2 separate regions of the Homo sapiens genome follow, and region 2 is linked to region 1. The links come from fine-mapping of genetic effects on plasma protein levels. A gene starts in region 1. The other region holds a variant in brackets. All regions are shown on one strand. Distances are between the middles of the regions. Region 1 holds the start of RGMA (repulsive guidance molecule BMP co-receptor a). Region 2 overlaps RGMA (repulsive guidance molecule BMP co-receptor a).

Evidence for each region. PIP is the chance, under the fine-mapping model, that this variant and not a neighbour inherited with it causes the effect. The UK Biobank Pharma Proteomics Project read protein levels with antibody pairs (Olink). The fine-mapping took linkage between variants from a reference panel, not from the people measured, so its PIPs are less certain.
Region 2: its variant is fine-mapped to the plasma level of the RGMA protein (UK Biobank, PIP above 0.99).

Annotation. Positions count from the first base shown.
Region 1 is chr15:93,087,802-93,090,702 of GRCh38, reverse strand. RGMA (repulsive guidance molecule BMP co-receptor a) reads left to right here and starts at 1,492. Exons shown (of 4, transcript NM_020211.3): 1 at 1,492-1,784. The coding sequence starts at 1,771. It overlaps LOC101927025 (a long non-coding RNA gene), which reads right to left and starts at 1,489. Exons shown (of 5, transcript XR_007064769.1): 1 at 1,426-1,489.
Region 2 is chr15:93,044,502-93,047,339 of GRCh38, reverse strand. It overlaps RGMA (repulsive guidance molecule BMP co-receptor a), which reads left to right. Exons shown (of 4, transcript NM_020211.3): 4 at 1,635-2,838. The coding sequence ends at 2,342. Among named protein-coding and RNA genes, the nearest start is that of RGMA, 43 kb to the left of the region's middle. The variant A/G (reference allele first, on the strand shown) is at 2,540.

The sequences.
Region 1 (2,901 bases):
GGAAGGAAAGGCACGGATGTGAGGACTCCCTAGAGGGTGGGGAAGATGTTGGAGCTGAGCTATGAAAGATGAAGAAATTGGTTATTCACTGAATGTCAGGGCACAGAATGTCAGGGCAGGAAGACCACACACACACACACACACACACACACACACACACACACACACACCCTACTATTCATAGATGAGGAAACTGAGGCCCAGCAGAGCTAGATGACTTGCCGAAGGTCAGAGCTAATTCTAGAAACCCATCCCCAATCCCTTCCTGCTAAACCACTTAATTTTATTTATATCCCAGCTATAGATTATACAAATACACTTGACAAATAAAACGGAGAATATTGAGTTAAAACCACATCTCTGAAGACCACACGCATAAATAACGATCGTGTTTTAATGCGGACGATACCTTTTCATTTTGCAAATCCAGAGTTCTCATCATATCAAAATTCAAGACAGTTTGTTCTGTAAGAAGGGGAAGGTCATAACCCTGTCTAGAATGTACTGGCAAATCTCTCTAACCGTGCAGTGCTAATTTGGGCCTGAGCTGTGTAACCAGACCGACTTCACGCTCCAGCTGGGGTTTCAGATCCACACATGGCGATTGGGTGGCTCTTTGCTGTTTCACAGCAAGGGTCCTTCCCTGGGCTCCCGGAGCCTCTGGGGATTTACTGCTCCCGACGTGGCCGTGTTCAAGCCACTGTGTGCATGCGCTTAATGTTGAAAACATTCTTTTGAAAAGCCCAGGAGATTCCACTCGCAATCTGTGCGTGTGCATGTAAAAGCGCAGAGACTGGAAAGAACCGCGGCAGAGCACACCCTGACCGAAGGTTACCGCGGGGGAGCCGCGGCCGTGGGAGAGCCGCGGCCGTGGGAGGGAGTGCGATACGGTCTTTTCACTCTAGACACTCCTGAGTTATGTACAATTCTACGCAAGAATGTATGCGTGTGTTAGCATGTAATACATATGTATTAGTTTTTTCAGGAAGATTCTTAAACAACAACAAAATCTCTATAGAACAAAGGTGCGTCTCCGCAGAGCGCAACAGCATTTGTCTTGGATGTAACCGCCTTCTCCAGAAATCTCAGAGGAACTCCCCTCGACCACCGCCTAACTGAAGGACACCGTGCGCTCCACCGCAACCCTGCGGGCGATTCGGAAAGTTGGAGGCGCCCCGGGGAGTCGCCGCACTTGCCGCCCGCGCCCCCTAACCTGAGCATTCAAGGAGTCTTGACTTGGCCGCTGGCGCACTCCGCACCCACCCAGCCGGTGCTGATGCGGGAGGGTGGGGCCGCGGCGGGGCGGGGCAACGCGAGCCCGCACCCCGCTCCTCCCCGCCCCTCCCTGCCGGCCCCGCCCGCGCGCGCCCCCCGCCCGCGGCCCGGGCGCCCGGCCCGCCCCCTCCCCTCGGCGCGCAAACGAACCTCGCGACGCCGCGCTCGGCGGCGGGCGGGGGCCGGGCGAGGGAGGGGGCTGGTCCCGGCCGCCCCACTCTGCAGTTGTCTCCCGAGCGCTGGCTGCGCCGCCCGAGCCGCTGGGCCGGGGAAGCACTGGCCGTTCGCTCCCGGGCCGGCTCCGCCAGGCGCTCGCAGGCATGCAGCCCGGGAGCAGGAGGCGCTCCCCGGGCCGCTGCTGAGCCGGCCGGGGCGGCGGGGACCAGCGCCAGCGGAGCCCCTCCCACCTTGCCCCGGGGCAGACGAGCGGCGCCCCGACACCCCCTCTTCTCCCGCAGCCCCGCCAGCGCCACCCCCCGCGGGCCGCAGGGGCTCATGCAGCCGCCAAGGTAAGCGCGGGTCGGGAGCCGGGCAGACCCGGCTCTGACATCTCCGAGGCGCCGCCGACACATGCCGGGGCCACGGCGCTGCTTTGGTCTTCCTTAGCCCCGCGTCTCATCTTGCTCCCATCTTGCCCACATTTGGAGCTTTGCTGCGCCTCTATCGCTTTAGCTGTTGGCAGCAGGAAAGTTTTTGTGGTTTGGTGTTTGTTCTTTTTTCCTAAAATACTCTCCCCCGGGCAGCCGCCAGCGCGCGTGGTTGGGCAGACCCGGCACACGTCCCTTACACCGTGTGCGGGCTGGGAGCTCCTTCCCTCAGCCCGGCTCGCGGAGCCCCGGACGGAGCCGGCCACCCGACTGTCCCGCCGTGAACCCCCATTGGCCCGCGCCGCCCGGGCCCCCGCCTCCCGCTCGACGCCCGGCTGCGGAGCTGCCTGGCCATCTCCTGCCCTCGGGGATGTCGGCGCAGTGCACCGCGTGGGCTCGCGTCCCGGCGGCCCTTTGCCTCGGCGCGCCGGCGTACGGGAAGGTGCGGACCTTGGATTGAGGGCCGAGGATGCCCATTGCCAAGCCGCCCCGGCTTTCCTAAGTGGACGGGAGGGCACGGCGACGATTCAGCGCCGGCTCGCGCCGCAGCTCAACCCAGGGTACAAGCCCGGGCATGGGGGACAGGTGTATTCAATGGGAGGGCGGGTGTGGGGGACGCTCGGGTGCAATTCGGGATTGCGTCTTATTAATGTAATTGTATTAGACTTGCTCGGAGGTAGAATCAGTTCTCCCAAATTGAGATTTCTAATGGGAGCCTGTGAGCTGCTATTATGTGGTGTGGTTTTGGGAGGTGTTGGGTTGTATTTATTTTATAAATTGGGTGTCTCGCGGGCGGAGTAGGGGAAGTAGCGCCATCTAGCGGAAGTGGTGAGCTGTGCATTCCTCTTAGGCTGCGAAGTTGTTGGGTGTTCTCAAAGTAGTCTCCCGCACAAGGTGGAGAGGCGGGAACCAGCCCTCGCCTCCAGGAAGGAGGCTACAGAAGCTCTCTGAGTATCGACGGTACCAGGGAGAACCCCGACCTCCCATGCTCAGCACATTGAGCTCAGGGGACGAAATTGCGGGTCGTGTTGAGTGGCAT
Region 2 (2,838 bases), 43 kb after region 1:
ACAGCTGACACCTGGGAAAGGAGTGGAAGAAGGGGTGGTTTTTTCTCTCCCAGTTTCTCTGTTTCCAACCCAGAAACCTGCTTAGGGTTAGGGAGGAAAGAACAGCCAGACGCCACCCAGGACGCGGACGGCAGAGGAAACTCACCTGCTCCCCTGGCCACCGGCCCTCCTCCTCTCAGGCCTCCCACCCTATGGGCTTGTGGCCAAGAGAGCCCAGAGTCTGGAAACGCAGAGTCTAATCCCAGCTCTGCCTCTTGCTGGCTGTGTGACCTTAGGCAAGTTACTGCCTCTCTCTGAGCCTACATTTTCTCATCCGGAAAATTGAGAGTAATGTCACCGACCCTTGCAGTGTCACACGAGACTGGAAGTAATACATGCAGTGCTTAGCATGCTGTATGCAGCCAATGCCTCTGTGTCTGGCTCTCAGGAGAACAGTGCCACCCAGCCAGCTGCTGCTCCAGCAGCTCAGTCCAGCCCCTCACCCCTGGCCACAGGCTCCAGCAGAAAGGAGCCTCCCTGCTCCAGCCCCGGCCAAGGCTGCCCGTTCAGCCTGGAACCTCCATCTCCCTTTTACCGACCAGCACCTTGCTCCTTTCCTGTTCCCCTCCTCCATGACCCAGCTTGGGGACCCCTTTCAGCAGCCTTGGGACAGTGGCTTCTGCTTGCCTCTGCCTGCTTGCATGGATTTTGCCCTATTCATTCTTTCTTTGAGCATCATTTCCCTCCATTCCACCTGCTGTAATGTTCAGACATTTGCTTGGGTCCTTTGTCAGGAATTGTGCTCCAGTACCACTGTCATTATGCAAGATGATGTTTGCAAACCATATTCATTTCCTATCGCCACTGTAGCAAATTAGCATAAACTGAGTGGTTCAAACCAACAGAAATGTTTTATAATTGTGGAGGCCGGAAGTTGGGAATATGTCTCGTGGGGATAAAATCAAGGTATCAGCAGGGCTGGTCCTGGAGACTCCAGGGGAGAATCCATTCATTGCCATTTCCAGCTTTTGGTGGTTGCCAGCATCCCTTGGTTTGTGGCCACATCATTCGAATCTCTGCCTTGTTGAGCACATCACCTTCTCCTCTGTCCTAGTTAGTCAAATCTCCCTCTGCCTCCTTCTTATAAAGATACTTGTGATTCCATCTAGGGCCCACCCAGGTAATCCAGAATAATCTCTTCATCTCAGTGTTCTTAACCTAATCATATCTGCAGGGTCCCTTTTGCCATCTAAGGGAACATTCCCAAGTTACAGGGATTAGGGCATGTTCTTCTTGGGAGCCATTATTCAGCCTACCACACTGGGCTTTTGACCTTTTATTTTTAATTATCTATGCTTTTATTTTTCTGGTTCACTTCCCTATATAGTAAAAGAGCTAGTTTTCTACTTAGGGTAGTGGTCTAACATTTTTCTAAGTCACTTTTTAAAGTAAAAAGGGCAAGTTGTTTTCATTGAAAGAATGTGAAGTGCACAGCTGCGCAGGTGGAACTGATCTGTCCAACCTGGAGAAGGGAGTGTCTGGGGCATCCCTGGGGATCCTTCCTGCCCTCCTCTCAGTCTAGAGCATCTTAAGTGTGGGGCTGTGCCTCCTCCCACTGTGCCTCACCCACTCTCCTCTGCCCCTTTCCCCGGCAGCTCACCATCATCTTCAAGAACTTCCAGGAGTGTGTGGACCAGAAGGTGTACCAGGCTGAGATGGACGAGCTCCCGGCCGCCTTCGTGGATGGCTCTAAGAACGGTGGGGACAAGCACGGGGCCAACAGCCTGAAGATCACTGAGAAGGTGTCAGGCCAGCACGTGGAGATCCAGGCCAAGTACATCGGCACCACCATCGTGGTGCGCCAGGTGGGCCGCTACCTGACCTTTGCCGTCCGCATGCCAGAGGAAGTGGTCAATGCTGTGGAGGACTGGGACAGCCAGGGTCTCTACCTCTGCCTGCGGGGCTGCCCCCTCAACCAGCAGATCGACTTCCAGGCCTTCCACACCAATGCTGAGGGCACCGGTGCCCGCAGGCTGGCAGCCGCCAGCCCTGCACCCACAGCCCCCGAGACCTTCCCATACGAGACAGCCGTGGCCAAGTGCAAGGAGAAGCTGCCGGTGGAGGACCTGTACTACCAGGCCTGCGTCTTCGACCTCCTCACCACGGGCGACGTGAACTTCACACTGGCCGCCTACTACGCGTTGGAGGATGTCAAGATGCTCCACTCCAACAAAGACAAACTGCACCTGTATGAGAGGACTCGGGACCTGCCAGGCAGGGCGGCTGCGGGGCTGCCCCTGGCCCCCCGGCCCCTCCTGGGCGCCCTCGTCCCGCTCCTGGCCCTGCTCCCTGTGTTCTGCTAGACGCGTAGATGTGGAGGGAGGCGCGGGCTCCGTCCTCTCGGCTTCCCCATGTGTGGGCTGGGACCGCCCACGGGGTGCAGATCTCCTGGCGTGTCCACCATGGCCCCGCAGAACGCCAGGGACCGCCTGCTGCCAAGGGCTCAGGCACGGACCCCTCCCCTTCTAGTGCACGTGACAAGGTTGTGGTGACTGGTGCC[A/G]TGATGTTTGACAGTAGAGCTGTGTGAGAGGGAGAGCAGCTCCCCTCGCCCCGCCCCTGCAGTGTGAATGTGTGAAACATCCCCTCAGGCTGAAGCCCCCCACCCCCACCAGAGACACACTGGGAACCGTCAGAGTCAGCTCCTTCCCCCTCGCAATGCACTGAAAGGCCCGGCCGACTGCTGCTCGCCGATCCGTGGGGCCCCCTGTGCCCGCCACACGCACGCACACACTCTTACACGAGAGCACACTCGATCCCCCTAGGCCAGCGGGGACACCCCAGCCACACAGGGAGGCATCC